Linked DNA regions of Homo sapiens: region 2 is linked to region 1. Evidence: fine-mapped expression QTL. A gene starts in region 1. The other region holds a variant in brackets. All regions are shown on one strand. Distances are from middle to middle.

Region 1 (8,349 bases):
TATGCTAGTTTCTATATTCAATACAGTCTTCATTCATGTAACTTCATCCATTTTATAATATTGTCTGTTGAGGCAAGAAAATAATTTCACAAAGGTTATTATAGTTATTGGAAGAGGCTTAGCTCTCTCATAGCCTTATTAAATCATCTGTTAGGCTAATTACTCCCTCCTCTCTTCTTCTGGTGCATGTGCGTGTGTTTGTGTGTTTAAAACTTTAGGGATTTTAGGGACTATGGTAAACTGGAAATTGTAATATAAGCATAAAATAAGAACCATCAAAATGGAAGGGATTTGCACGAAAGAGAAATTCTAATATAGCTCAGATCTGAACTATAATCTGCTGAGTGAGATTAGTCTATCTCAGCAAAACCCAGAAGGTGGTGGATAGGGTCAGAAGAGAGATTAGTGTTCCAAAGGTTTCATGTGGAGCCAGGGGAAAGAGGAGATATTTTGAATTCTAATCCATCTCTGCTAGCTTTTTCTAAGTTGAAACAGCCCTTCTGTTTAATAGTTCTGCTTTCTGTGCTTTGCAGTGTAAAACTATGCCAATATACATCAAAGAAATTTATCATCATATACTCGCAATGAGGATGGTACCTAAAATTGTCCATGGAAATAAAATATGCTTCTCAGAATGACTGTGTAACAGGAACAGAGATCAAGAAGTTAAAAATGTTCTTCTAAAGTCATGCTGGGGGGTGATTAATAATGTTCCTTGAAAGTGTCCTAGTGTCAGTACATCCTTAGAAAGTATCAGTTTGCTTTTAAAGCCGCATAGTCACAGGCATAGTTGAAATTTTATGCTTCTCATGCATAAAGTGCATAAAGTTTATTTTTTATTCTCATAAATAGATTTGCAGCTAAAAATTTCTTAGTTGATTTTCTTGTTGACAATTGAGCAAATAGAGATATTCATAGTTTTGCCATGTTATGGCAGCACAATATTTGTTTCTGTTTTTATTTTAAAGCATACATTAAAAACTTAGAAATGGTGACATATCTTGGCAGTAATGCTCATGGACAAATTTTACACGGATATCATAGCTACTGTCATGATATTTTCACTTAGAAATTATTTCAGACTTAGAAAAACACTGCAAGAACAATAAAGAACACTCATATGACCTTTACCCAGAATCACCTGTTGTTAACTTTTGTCCCAGTTTGTTGCGTGATACACATTTTCTGTCAGATAACTAGATAGATGTTTTATATTCTGAACCATTTCTGTGTAAGTTGTATTTGCCATGGTCTCTTACTCCTCAGTACTTACAGTCTAGGACCAATTATTGTTTTAGTTCTTGTGTTTTTGTAGTCTCTTTTACTCTGTCATGTCATTTCCTCAGTCTTTTCTTTTTCTCTTATAACATTTTTAAATAATCCACTCCTTATAATCTCTCTCCATCTTTCCAATTGCCTCTCTGTTTTTGTCTCCCATCCATCCTCTCCCCACCTCCCCCAGCAGAATAGAGTGTTCCTCATTTGTGGTTTGATATTTCCTTATGGTTAGATTTATGTATGCATCTCTCGTTAGAATATTGCATAAGTGATGTGTCCCTCTTGGAATATCACAGGCAAAGTCACATGGTGCTCATCTGTTTCTCACTGATGATGTTAATGCTGGTCAAGGTGTTATCTGATTTCCCCACTGTGTATAGTTACTATGTTGTTATTTTTTTTTCTTGCAACTGATAAGAGGTCTATATTGAGATATACTGCCCCTCATTAAAATTTATCTCCTACATTGAGCAAAAGAATTCTCAAATTGTTTGCTAAATTTTTTTTTCCAGGAACACAAGTCCACTTTATTTACCTTTCATTAGTTTAAATCTTTAAGGGGTTACAGCATCTATGTCCAATGGCCTTAGCAGAAGGATCGCTTTGGAATTTGGCAAAAACCATGCCAATGTTTCCTTGGGCCCAAGTTACCTTTCTCTAGAATACTCTGATTTTGTTTGGTTTGCTGCCAGGAGTCACTTGTTGTTCTTTGCTTTGTGTGCGTAAGCACATTTATTGCCCAAATAGAATTCAGTTTCATCTTGGGCATAAACACCTTCAGTTTTAAGAAGATTTGTGTGCTCCCTTTGGTTCCAGAGACCCTGCTTATAGCGCAAAAATGGCCTTGGATGACAGCCTTCCAGAAATACTTGCCTTTTAGAAGTCATGTTCCAAGCAGGCCTCGACAGGCTTCATGATGGCAGGAAGAGCTGGATTATTTTTAATTGCAAATCCCATTTCACATTTTCATTCTCTTGATTTTAGTTCCATCAGTGACTTTTAAGGTCCATAAAATCAGTAACTGCTGTTATTATAAGCCATTCTTTATATGTAAACCAATCTTGATTGGTTTATATATAGATGGTATATATCTAAATACATATAGGCTGGACGCAGTGGCTCACACCTGTAATCCCAGCACTTTGGGAGGCCAAGGTGGGAGGATTACTTGAACCTACTAGTTCAAGACCAGCCTGAGCAGAATGGCAAGACTCCGTCTTTACAAAAATAAGAAAAAGCATGGTGGCATGCACCTGCAGTCCTAGCTACTCAAGAGGCTGAGGGAAGAGGATCACTTGAGACTGGGAGGTCGATGCTGTGGTGAGCTGTACTCACATTGTTGCACTCCAACCCAGCCGACAGAGCAAGACTGTGTCTCAAAAGAATACATGCATCCATACAGATGATGTATATTTAAAAGAGCTAATGGAACAATTGCTCTGTTATTTATACATTCTTGTTTTTGTATGGGGAGAATCTGAATGGAAAAGAGAATAGTTGTGTATTAATACCAGAAGCATGAGATGATTTGAAGACAAAGGCAGTGTAAAAGAAGGTTCAGCAACAAGAATGAGAGGAAAACAGCTCAATGAGTCAATTTCCTGGAAAGAAATAGAAGACTAATTTAAGAGGTTGAGCGTAGTGTTCAGTAATAGTTGTAATGAACATTAGTAATCAGAAAAGGATAATGAGGAATCATTGTTGATCAGTTGTCTCTAAGAACAGCAACTCCTAAATGAACAGAAAGACTAAACTTTGTTTTGCTGGAGATAGGAATTTTTTTTTAAACCATTCAACCTGAGAGTTACAGTGTACTATTTATATTTGCTTGTTTTGTTGAAGTCAGTTTAGTTTCCTTCAGTTTTTAGAATGTGAGAAGTGAGATTTTATTTTGTCATTTTTCCTTAATACAGTTTCCTAAAAATTTTACCTTTGCATCCTAATAAGTGTTCTTTACTGCTTTGGATATTTTTGGCATAAAGAACAAAATTAATTCATACTCTGGTTATATTACTTTGTGGGTTTTTTCTCTTTAATTTTATTTTTATTTCAAAGGACCCTTTCTCTGAATTTTTCCCAAGAAATTGAAAAATCCATGGGACAAGCTTCATATCACCTTGTATATTATTGGAAGTACTAAACAAAATGGACCTGAGAAACATAGCCCCTACCTCAAATTCATATCATTTCTGTCACTTGTTTTGTTTTCCATTTTTAATGCATAAAATAGCAATAACAGTAACCAGCCATAATGGATAGGTGTAAGAATCATAAGTCATTTTGATAACGATCTGCTATCCAGTATGCATTGCTGAATTTTTAGTCATAGAAAGATAATGCTAGGTATTATTTCAGCTTTCTAATATGGACATAATTCATATTATTTCTAAAGTAATTGTTGATGTGAAATGAAACTGCTTTAATATCAAAGGAGAGTTGTATACAATTATATAACTTGATATTTTAGGAATATTATCAGGCTATTAGTAATATTAATAAAAGTCAGAATTAGAAAGCTTAAGCAACTAGCTTAAAGTTAATGAAAGAAAGTTAATGACTGAACAATATATAATATAAACAATTTATATCCGATTCTTTAAATTCTTGAAAAATGACGTTAAAAAATTCTCCATTTTTGTTCTAAAAGATTCAAACTGATACAGATATATATAGGGCGAAACATCGCCTCTTTTACTCTCCCCAATTTTTCTTGCAAAGATAACCTATGTCAGTAAGTTGGTATGCAGCTTCTTAACATCTTATAACCCAACACAACCAATTAGTGCGTTACTACTAATTAGTAGCTTACTACCAATTAGTACCTCACGTATTAAGTAGTACTCAGTATTTTTTGCAACCAAAAATATTTTGAAAATTTTAAAAAGAGCACTGGAGGATAATATAACAACATTTATGTTCATTCTAAATTTTTTCCCCTATTTTTATTAAAGGAATAAAGCATAAAGTTTAAGTCTTCAATGCGTATTTAACACAACATAAATATTTTATTCATTAAAAAGTTTACAAAAAATTGTATTACTCGATATACATCTTATTTGAACTAGCCTTTTCCATTCAGTAGCTATGTTGTTTGATAGCTAGAGTCTGTTGATTGATATTTGGGTTCTGAATAACTAATGTTTTCAAGTATCCTTTAAAAACTATTATTTTTATATTATAGGAGATATTTCAATGTGTATATTAGGAAAACTCTAACTGCATTCTGAAAAAATAAGTTCCTGAGATTTCCGTTCAGCAATACTTTTGAAACACAGATAAAATTACTTCCTGTCTCTTAGCTTCCTGTATCCATGGCAACCTCTGTTTTACACATTGACTGTAAAGGAACCAATGTGAAGAGTGGTGTTTCCTGAGCAAACGGTGACTTAAAAAAAAAAAAAAAAAAGTGGTGGGGTGGAGGTCAGCAGTGCCACAGAACAAACTGGAGTTAAGAAATGTCGTTCTTCAGATTTAAAAAGAAAACCTTTACTGAATCAGCTGAGTGTTAATAATACGAATTTCCTTTTCTTGGTAAGATTATTTACTTAAATATGAACTTCTAGCTGACATGAAAAATAGTTCTGTGAAAAACTGTAATTTAGAATTTAATTGTTCTGTAGTGAATTTGTATTTTCATAAATTATAATGTTATTTGATATTAGACTTTATGTTGTTAAAGGGACATATTAAATTCAAAGATTCTCATTCCTACATCATTTGTCACCTGTGTTGTAATCAATTGTAATTTTTAAGTTAACTTAGCAAATGTTTCATTAATCTGAACTATTTTGTCAAATAGTGGGTTAATGGCCTGATCATGTTAATAATTCTAGAACGTATTCCATACTCATTATTTTTTGCTATTACCATGGTATGATTTATGATAGTATTATTGGCTGATCCTAATTAAAATAGAATACAGAAGTTATAGTATTATAAAAAAAATTCATTTGATGAAGTTTTCGTGATTTAAAGCTTTACCTTCTCTTTTTATAGCCAATTCTGATCTGAACAGAAAATCCAAGAACAGGGATATGTGTGGATTACAGTTTTCTCTGCCTTGCCTACGACTGTTTCTGGTTGTTACCTGTTATCTTTTATTATTACTCCACAAAGAAATACTTGGATGTTCGTCTGTTTGTCAGCTCTGCACTGGGAGACAAATTAACTGCCGTAACTTAGGCCTTTCGAGTATTCCTAAGAATTTTCCTGAAAGTACAGTTTTTCTGTATCTGACTGGGAATAATATATCTTATATAAATGAAAGTGAATTAACAGGACTTCATTCTCTTGTAGCATTGTATTTGGATAATTCTAACATTCTGTATGTATATCCAAAAGCCTTTGTTCAATTGAGGCATCTATATTTTCTATTTCTAAATAATAATTTCATCAAACGCTTAGATCCTGGAATATTTAAGGGACTTTTAAATCTTCGTAATTTATATTTACAGTATAATCAGGTATCTTTTGTTCCGAGAGGAGTATTTAATGATCTAGTTTCAGTTCAGTACTTAAATCTACAAAGGAATCGCCTCACTGTCCTTGGGAGTGGTACCTTTGTTGGTATGGTTGCTCTTCGGATACTTGATTTATCAAACAATAACATTTTGAGGATATCAGAATCAGGCTTTCAACATCTTGAAAACCTTGCTTGTTTGTATTTAGGAAGTAATAATTTAACAAAAGTACCATCAAATGCCTTTGAAGTACTTAAAAGTCTTAGAAGACTTTCTTTGTCTCATAATCCTATTGAAGCAATACAGCCCTTTGCATTTAAAGGACTTGCCAATCTGGAATACCTCCTCCTGAAAAATTCAAGAATTAGGAATGTTACTAGGGATGGGTTTAGTGGAATTAATAATCTTAAACATTTGATCTTAAGTCATAATGATTTAGAGAATTTAAATTCTGACACATTCAGTTTGTTAAAGAATTTAATTTACCTTAAGTTAGATAGAAACAGAATAATTAGCATTGATAATGATACATTTGAAAATATGGGAGCATCTTTGAAGATCCTTAATCTGTCATTTAATAATCTTACAGCCTTGCATCCAAGGGTCCTTAAGCCGTTGTCTTCATTGATTCATCTTCAGGCAAATTCTAATCCTTGGGAATGTAACTGCAAACTTTTGGGCCTTCGAGACTGGCTAGCATCTTCAGCCATTACTCTAAACATCTATTGTCAGAATCCCCCATCCATGCGTGGCAGAGCATTACGTTATATTAACATTACAAATTGTGTTACATCTTCAATAAATGTATCCAGAGCTTGGGCTGTTGTAAAATCTCCTCATATTCATCACAAGACTACTGCGCTAATGATGGCCTGGCATAAAGTAACCACAAATGGCAGTCCTCTGGAAAATACTGAGACTGAGAACATTACTTTCTGGGAACGAATTCCTACTTCACCTGCTGGTAGATTTTTTCAAGAGAATGCCTTTGGTAATCCATTAGAGACTACAGCAGTGTTACCTGTGCAAATACAACTTACTACTTCTGTTACCTTGAACTTGGAAAAAAACAGTGCTCTACCGAATGATGCTGCTTCAATGTCAGGGAAAACATCTCTAATTTGTACACAAGAAGTTGAGAAGTTGAATGAGGCTTTTGACATTTTGCTAGCTTTTTTCATCTTAGCTTGTGTTTTAATCATTTTTTTGATCTACAAAGTTGTTCAGTTTAAACAAAAACTAAAGGCATCAGAAAACTCAAGGGAAAATAGACTTGAATACTACAGCTTTTATCAGTCAGCAAGGTATAATGTAACTGCCTCAATTTGTAACACTTCCCCAAATTCTCTAGAAAGTCCTGGCTTGGAGCAGATTCGACTTCATAAACAAATTGTTCCTGAAAATGAGGCACAGGTCATTCTTTTTGAACATTCTGCTTTATAACTCAACTAAATATTGTCTATAAGAAACTTCAGTGCCATGGACATGATTTAAACTGAAACCTCCTTATATAATTATATACTTTAGTTGGAAATATAATGAATTATATGAGGTTAGCATTATTAAAATATGTTTTTAATAATTTGTGAACAGTGTATTCATTTAGCAAATATTTTCTTTGATATATACTGTATTAAGTAATAATAGCTAACATTTCTGTGTATCAAGCACTGTGCCAAATATTTCACATTTCACATTTAATCTGTGAATAGTCTTGAAAGGTGGCACTATTTATACTTTACAGGTGAGGAAACTTAAAGTTTAAGTAACTATGCCAAATTCTCACAGCTTGTAACACTTTTTGGGCCTCTCTGACTAGAGTTCATGCTTTCAGTTTTATACTATATTGCTGCTTTGGTTCTAGGATTGTGATATGAAAAAAATAGACGTGGTTCTTATTCTAGGTAGAGCTTGAAATTTAGAGGAGGAGATATATGGTTACTGCACAGTGCGATGATAAGTACTGTACTTGGAGATGCTGTTGAGTATAACATTTGTGGAGGTGAGAGATGGCTTTATGAAGAAAGTGACATCAAAACTGGATCACGAAGAATAAATAGAAATTAGCCCAGTGAAGAGAGCTGAGTAACATCGTGTCAGAGGGGTTAACAGAAGAAAACCTGCTGCTTTTCAGGAACTAAAATTCAGTACAGCTGGTGTCGTGAATGATGGTGTGCGATTTAAAGCCCGAAAGAGAGATCAGGTGATGAAAGCTTTATAGTTACATGCTTTATCTTGAGGGCAACAGAGAGCCATTGAAGGATTTTTAAGCAGTAGAGTGAAATGATTAGATTTACCCTTTAGAAATTTCCCTCTTTCTGGAAGGAACAATAAAACCGGAGCCAGAATTAGGTGAGTAGGAATCTGAATTGCTAATCCAGGGGAAAGATGCTAGAGGCCTGGGCCAGGATACTGGCAAAAAGGATGGATGGATCCAGAGGTACTTTGAAAGTAAAATGAACTGCCTTGGTGATTGGTTGAGGCGTGGCAGGGGAGGGAGAAGTCAAAGATGTTAGGTTTTTGGCTTAGGCAGTTTTGTGCTGTATTCACTAAGCTAGGGAAAGAAAAGGGGTGGGGCAAAATAATGAGTCAGTTTTAGACAGATTGAATC
Region 2 (8,349 bases), 28 kb after region 1:
AGTAGCTTGTAAAAATTAAGAACCATATATTATCATTTTCTGTAGGTTCAGAAATATCTATGGTCTATTTGTCCATCCAGCTATATGTCTATCCATCTATCCCATGTTACAGAATTAATGTAAGGTGTACCCTAAAACAGATACATTTTATTCCTAGTACAGAAAGTTGAGGTTAACTTTTCATCTGAAATAACTGTTGCTTATCTTAGTGCAGAGCAGATGATTTAGTGTTTTACTTATGGAAGGTATGTGTGACCTGCAAACCTTATTTAAGTTGAAATGTTTATTCTTCTGTTTTGAGGAGATGTACTGAAATTTCCTTGCATTCCCTATTATTTTATAGATCTTCACATGAACTTTTGCTGATCTGCATCACAGGCTTTTATAAAAATGCCCTTAAGTTAACCACTAACTTGTTGTAAAAACCACTAATTCTCACCAGAGGAATCTGATAAGGGGAAAAGAACAAAAAAAAAGGAAATATCTAAAATATCTTGCCTTTTAATATTATATATAATCGTGAATGTTTAAATATTTATTTTTACCATAAATAGAAAATAGGTACATAAGAAACTATTTTTTCCCTTTTCTTTTGGAATCTTTTCTTGTCTTCTGGCCTCATCATTTAACTAACTTTATTATACCTTCTTTCCTCATTTGCAAAATGAAAACAATTGTATCTACCTCATAGATAGAATAAATAATTAAAATGGTTATGGATACCTAGTAATTACTCTGTAAGAGTTAGCTGTCATTTTAATCTGATCATTGTATTTACACCTCGCATTACAGCACGTTAGCTCTCAAGGGCCTAATCCTTAGCTTATAGCTAACATTGCACTGCTCTGAGAGCCTTCTTTTAAACTGTTTGAATTTAACTCATTTTACTTTGCTTTTATGCTAGGTATCATCTCCCTAGCACATAGTGTAGAGGAAAGGACAACATCCAAAGATTCTTAAGACCTGAATTCTAGTCCTTTTTTACTATTACTTGTGACCTTGAGCAAGTCACCTTGTCTTTGTAGATCCGTTTGCCTCATCTGTGAAAAGCGGCAGAAATTGGATTAGCATATTTCCAGGGTCTTCGAACTGAAAAATTACTGTTAAAACTCTTAATATCATTACTTTTCTTCCCCCAAAACAATGTTTGTACATATAATAAGTCCTCATTTAACATCATTGATAGTTTCTTGGAAACTGTAACTTGAAGCAGAAAAACATATAATGAACCTAGTTGTACCATGGGCTAATTGATCTAAACAAGAAGCTCCTACAGCATATTTCTGGTCACAAAAACATCACCGAACTTCTTAATAAAGATCCAAAACACTTCTAATATTTAACATTGAAGTAAGTGTGAGCTATATATACGTTTAAGAAAGATTAATGAAAACAAGTTAAATTATTTTCCCTTGTTTTTGGTGAATCAGTGAGTGATGATGGTCGTGATGGTGGGTTAAATCAAGGAATAAATGTTTGCAAAGTGAAAATTGTAAGGAGCACCTCCTACTGCCATGCACTTCAAAAACGAACAAATCTGGCGAGCTCGCTGAAAGCTTTCATAGAGCAGCATTTATATGCATTTGTATGACAATAATTTGTATTCATTCATTCTTTCATTTTTGCAACCCACTTATTCTGCTTTACGGTAGTGGGTGGCTGGAGCCTGTCCTAGCAGCTAAGGGTGCAAGACGGGAACCAGTCCTGGACAGGACACCATTTCCTGACAGGGTGCACTTGCACACACTTACACTCAGATGGGAACAATTTAAACACGCCAGTTCACCTAGTGTGCACAGCTTTGGGATGTGGGAGGAAACTGGAGTACCCAGAGAAAAGTCACGCAGACATGGAGAGAACATGCAAACTCCACACAGACAGTGGACCCAGCCCAAATCCATTTGTTTTCCTTTTCAAAGTTACAATGAAATGATGATAGCAAGGACCTGCTGCGCAGTCATGCACTGCTCAGCAACACAACATTTCGGTCAACAGCACACTGCATATGATAGTGGTCCGATAAGATAATGATACCATATTTTTACTGTACCTTTTATGTGTTTTGATGTGTTTAGATACACAGATACTACTTGGTTACAGTTGCCTACAGTATTCGCTACAGTAACATGCTGTACAGATTTGTTGCCTAGGAGCAATAGGTTATACCATGTAGCCTAGGTGTATTGTAGGCTGTACCATCTAGGTTTGTGTAAGCACACTCCATAATGTTTACACAAGGAACTTGCCTAACAATGCATTTCTCAGAATGTATGCTCATCTTTAAGCAATGCATGACTATATATCTCGAGAAGTATTTTTCCTTTGAAATTAAACTGTTTTGTGGTTGTTTTGTTTTGTTTTGTTTTGCAATGGAGTCTCGCTCTATCACCCAGGCTGGAGTGCAGTGGTATGATCTCGGCTCTCTGCAACCTCCGCCTCCCAGGTTCAAGCAGTAACCATACCTCAGCCTCCCGAGTAGCTGGGACTACAAGTGTGTGCCACCATGTCTGGCTAATTTTTTTGTATTTTTAGTGGGCACGGGGTTTTGCCATGTTGGCCAAGCTGGTCTTGAACTCCTGACCTCAGGTGATCTGCCCACCTTGGCCTCCCAAAGTGCTGGGATTGCAGGTGTGAGCCACCATGCCTGGCCTATGTGGTATCTTAAATACGTGGAAAGTATTTTTTTTTGCACCTACAGTAATAATCTCTAAGTATAGCCTAACATTTGTCTTTCTACTGCTCACACCCCCACTTTATCATTCTAATTATATGTAGTATTGGTTTATAAAACAACCATTATTTTTTTAAGTGGCCGATTTTAAGTTACTTACTACAGTAGATATTTAATATAGATTTATATTATCATCTCTAGTAAGATTTCCAGTACCTTGGTCTTGCTCTTGGATACCCACTGCTCTTAGATATGCTGAGGATACCACAGCAGTTTTTGACTGAAGCTGGGATTGTGTATTGTATAACATTTAATAAATCCAATTATGAATACATGCTAATTTTCCAACAACTTTAAACAAAGAAAATTTGTTTCACTTATCTCTTAGAATTATAAGTTAATGTATTTTTTCAGTAATTACGTCAATCTTGAACTGTATTGTCTATAACGTTAGACATTTTTTGAGAACTATCCAGCAATATCTTGGTTGTTTCTTCAAAGGGGGAGAGTAAACATTTGCTGGCAAATGGTTATGAATTATTCTTTACAAAAAAATTAGCAAAGGCTTTTCTCATTTTAAAATGAAATTATTTGCTAGGAAGAAAAATATAGCTGCTTAGTTCCAAGGTCACATAAATGAAAATTTGATTCGCTTACTGTCATTGTTGTCTTAAAGTAGTCCATAAAATGTGGTGTCTGTGTTTCAGCAGCTGCTTTGGTAGAGAATAGCAGTAGTGATTGTAGTTCAGAAAGGCAGATGATTAATATTATATCAAATGTGCCAAATAATTTTCCATACGTTTCTGAGAATTCTCTATATTTTATTTCAAATAAGGATGAAATTTACACTCAGGAAAGCTATTAAGCTGTCCAGCCTTTTGATCTCCCTTTTCATTCAGCCTCTCTCTCTACCTTTCATTTCGGTGAAATAATACTTAGAATAGCACATGCAGCTCAAGCATTTCATTTAATATATGTTTCCTTTCTGTCCAGTATATTCTAATTAGTAGAATAATAATTTTATGACCTTTACTATAAAGACTTCAGCTAATTTATTAACATCTTTAGTTTTTTGTAATTTTTTGAAATCTGACTCATAGTCACTTGTAAGTTGTAATTTCCAAATTCTAGTTTTGAGCATTTTAATGCTTTCTCACAACTCTATGATACCAGCTAACAAAGTATTATTATTATTATTATTATTATTATTTTATTTACTTTTTTGGGATAGTCTTGCTCTGTTGT[C/T]CAGGTTGGAGTGCAATGGGTGCAAACATGGTTTACTCAGCCTCAACTTCCTGGGCTCAAAGAACCTTCCTGTCTCAGCTTCCTGTGTAGCTGAGACCGCATGTGCATGCCACTACGCTAATTTTTACATGTTTTGTAGAGACAGGGTCCCACTTTGTTGCTTAGGCTGGTCTCGAACTCTTAGGCTCAAGAGATCCTCCCTTGTCAGCCTTCCAAAGTGCCGGCATTACAGGTGTGAGCCACTCCACCCTCCCTATTTTTTCATATTATTACTTGGTTTTTTTTAAATGGGCAAATGAAAACTGTATGTATCTGTGGTGTACAACATGGTGTTTTAAAATATGTGTATATTGCAGAATGGCTGAATCAAGCTAATGAGCAAATCTGTTACCAGTTGAGCTCATTCAGAAAGAGAAAAGTTGGGCCAGGCGTGGTGGCTTATGCCTGTAATCCCAGTACTTTGGGAGGCCGAGGTGGGCAAATCGCTTGAGCCTAGGAGTTCAAGACCAGCCTGGGCAACATAGGTGAATCCTGCCTCTAAAAAAAAAAAAAATTTAGCTGGGCATGATGGCGTGCATCTGTAGTCCCAGCTACTTGGGAGGCTGAGGTGGGAGGATTGCTTGAACATGGGAGACGGAGGTTGCAGTGAGCCAAAATCATGCCACTGGTACTCCAGCCTAGACAACAGAACGAGACCCTGTCTTAAAAAAAAAAAAAAAAAAAAAAAAAAGGAGAACCCTTATGTCTCATTACAAACCACTGAAGTTAAAATGTGTGCGGCCGGGTACGGTGGCTCACGCCTGTAATCCCAGCACTTCGGGAGGCCGAGATAGGCAGATCACGAAGTCAGGAGATCGAGACCACCCTGGCTAACACAGTGAAACCCCATCTCTACTAAAAATACAAAAAAATTAGCCGGGCGTGGTGGCATGCGCCTGTAGTCCCATCTGCTGCATTATCATTTGAATGTGTTTTAAATTGAAACATATATATGGCAAACATAATCTGCAGCTTTACTTAGCTTTTTAATGCAATCAAGTATGTGTAGACTGCAGCTCTGGCAAGCTTGGCATCATAGTCTTTTGCCTAGGCTCCAGCATATGTAAGTAAACTATACGTTAGGTTGAGTTGCATTTTATTTGATGAATTTATAAGTACATCCTAAGTTTCATGCCAAATATAACAAATCCTGAGCATGGCTTTTGTACTGTCTTAGAGTGATTATTGTTTCTGTACTGCTCTTGCCAAATACTGTACTGGCTCAAGGATGGAGAACAGTGCTGCACTGTGAGGATGGAATTGTCCTGCAATCAGAGCCTACACATAGCTAACATTTTTCTCTTAGAGCACAGAGATATCTCCCTCATTTTCCCCTCCCTGCTTTCCCCTCCTTTACTCATCAACTCTGAAAACTTTCATTTTGTCTAACTTTTGGATCTAGAAGCTTTCTTTAGACTTGTACTTGTTAGAATTTAGAATACATCATCAAAAGGAAAGTGACACTGTTATGAGTTGAAACTATTTCATAAGGTTTTCTGGAAATCTTTATTCCAAATATAATGTCAACAGGGCACCCTGTGGTAGTGGCTTGGGGTGGGAGTTTTTAAACTCTCTCTGGATGATTTTGACCACTGAGAACCAGTAGATTGATTCTTTTGCCTGCTCCCATTTGCTTCTAGAAAACCTCAGCAGAACTACTATAAAGATAGAATTGTATTGGTACTGATAAGGTACTGTGTTGTTCTTAATTAAATATCAGTAATTTTTAATGTATGCATAAAATACATTTTCCTTTTGCAAATAATATGAGAATAATTCATCATCATATTGGTGGCTTCAGAACTGCCCTTTGAGAATCCTTACCTTATAGCATTCAGTAATCAAGATAAATTATAGCATTGTTGAAAATACTTTTTAGTATTCAGCTTACATGCAGTCCACCCAGGTTATGAGTTGAGAGACCTTTTTTCTTTTCTCAACTTGCGCAGTTAACATTTATCACTTCTAGTATCATGCCACATCTCTTTTTTTTTTTTTTGGAGAGTCTTACTCTGTCACCCAGGCTGGAGTGCAGTGGTGCTATCTCAGCTCACTGCAACCTGCTATCTCAGCTCACTGCAACCTCTGCCTCCCGGGTTCAAGCGATTCTCCTGCTTCAGCCTCCCAAGTAGCTGGGATTACAGGTGTGCACCACCACTGCTGGATAATTTTTGTATTTTTAGGTTAGAGACGGGGTTTCACCATGTTGGCCAGGCTGTTCCTGAACTCCTGACCTCAAGTGATCCACCCGCCTTGGCCTCCCAAAGTGCTGGGATTACAGGCATGAGCCACCACTCCTGGCCTCTCATGCCACATCTTGACCCCAAACCTTGAACTCCAACATTTCTCTCTCATCACAGTCTCTTCTTCCTTACTAATCATTCCTTTTCTTTTGGTAGATCTATTTTGAACTTTATCTGGAGCCCTACAATTTTTCCTTACTTTGTCCTCTTAAATCCTAGAGTACCATATTCTTTGCTGTTTTTACCTTTGGACAAGCTATAGCCCTCACCCTCTCTATTTCAGACTTACTGTATCTGGGGGCCTGGGAATCAGGCATACATATTTTCTAAAAGCTTCACATGTTCTTTTGGTATATAACCAGGGTTGAAAACCACTAGAATAAGAATTAAACCCCTTGACACTCTTTTAAGAAAGACCTCTGCAGTCTGCCTCCTTTTAAACTTTGTCCTGTATTCTCATTCTATCTCCTTCACTGGCTAAACCAAATGACTTGTCTCCACACGTTATATGGTTTCTGCCTCTATTACATGCTAGTCCTCCATCTGGAATAGCCCTTTTGTCCCTTTTCTCCCCACTGAGTTTTCTCATTTGCCATTTTAATTCCCATATATGCCGTGTCCCCCACATAGATGCAACCTCCCCCACTGTCCACATCCTGTACCACAGTGTTAAATTTGTTACAGCTGATGACCCTACATTGACACATCATCACTGACAATTGATAGTTTATGTTAGGGTTCACTCTGGTATTGTACATTCTATGGGTCTTAATAAATGTATAACGATGTGTATCCAACATTGTAGTATCATACGTAAGAGTTTCACTGCCTTCAAAATCCTGTGCTCTGCCTAGTCATCCCTCCCTCCCCTGAGCCCCTGGTGTTTTTACTGTCTCCATCGTTTTGTCTTTTCTGGAATGTTATGCAGTAGGACTCATACACTGTGTAGCCTCATATGATTTTTATTCAGAAAGTCAGCAGAGTGTGATGTTGCAGCTAATGTGTGTTGTCACTTGTCTGCTGGCTCACCATGTTGGTGTGGGGAAGCAGCTGGAACTGCACCAACTCCACGTCCTGCCAGATCCTCTCTAGCTTCTCTTACTTTAGAGCCAGGCACATGCCTAGTTTAATAATGAAGGCATTGGCTTCTCTTAGAAGATACCCCATCAGCAAAGTTGAAGACTTGGAAGTGATGAGAGGCTAAAGGGTGTTCCCATCTGTTCTTGTAGGTTCTACTCATTCTTGCAGTTTCACTTTGCCCTGTCCCTTGGGCCATATGACTTCAGGCTATAGCATCACCAGCACAAAAAGAAACAGCCTTCCATGGACTAGACGTTTAACTGGTTCTCACAGTCATGGAAGATCAAATCCCTATAATAAGGCCAAATATATGATTGATACAAGCTCCCTAGTGCCTAACAGCATGTATGATGTATATCAGGTGTTCAGCAAATGTTTGTTGAATGGATAAGTGACTGGATGGACCAATGAATGAATGAGAGACACAGTCCCTGCCCTCAAGGAGCTCCTAGACCAGTGTAGAGACAGAACTGAGATGTAGGGCTGACAACACAATTGTGTCATTTTGACATCTCTAGTGGAGCAGTCTGGAGAAGAGCTGGGCCTGCCCCTAGGCCTCCCAGTCACCAATGTCTTCCTGGTTTGAGTTTATGCTGGGTGAGGTGATGGGCACTTCATTAGACTGCCATGTTAGTTGGTGTCCCCAGGGGTCTGGGAGCACATAATTCAGTGTCCTAATGTCCAGCAGGTGACTGCAAGGGTTGCTTCTGAAAATGAGGTTCTAACTGTTGTGTGTCCAGGTGCTACAGCAAATATGAGGTCAACTCGTAGTCACATGTGTAGGTCTGCTTCTGGCGCCTGCTCCTGGGACCACATTGGATGTGGCTGTTGGCGATACTGTAATTGTAGCAGTCCCATTTAGGGAAGCACTGCCTAGCTCTCAGGAGGGAATAACAGCAGTCATGGGTGAGGCAACAACCAGTTGTTGGCATCCACCGGCTGCCTCTGGCCCACCAAACCACAGTGGCAGCCATAGATGAGGTACTTGTAATATTACTGGATATATTTTATCATACTGTTTGAGTGAATAAAAGCATAGGCTTGAATGCTATGTTAACCTGGTTAACATAG

The links.
Region 2: its variant is fine-mapped to the expression of LRRC70 in whole blood (TOPMed, PIP above 0.99). The same link has a PIP of 0.9 or more in T cells and blood mononuclear cells.

Annotation. Positions count from the first base shown.
Region 1 is chr5:62,574,127-62,582,475 of GRCh38, forward strand. LRRC70 (leucine rich repeat containing 70) reads left to right here and starts at 4,693. Exons shown (of 2, transcript NM_181506.5): 1 at 4,693-4,809; 2 at 5,275-7,320. The coding sequence starts at 5,313. The coding sequence ends at 7,181. The region is part of intron 27 of IPO11 (importin 11); the gene reads left to right. It overlaps IPO11-LRRC70 (IPO11-LRRC70 readthrough), which reads left to right and starts at 4,609. Exons shown (of 4, transcript NR_073584.1): 1 at 4,609-4,809. It also overlaps the pseudogene RPL35AP14.
Region 2 is chr5:62,601,861-62,610,209 of GRCh38, forward strand. All of the region lies in intron 29 of IPO11 (importin 11), which reads left to right. The region is part of intron 3 of IPO11-LRRC70 (IPO11-LRRC70 readthrough); the gene reads left to right. Among named protein-coding and RNA genes, the nearest start is that of LRRC70, 27 kb to the left of the region's middle. RefSeq lists a silencer at 8,166-8,284. The variant C/T (reference allele first, on the strand shown) is at 3,917.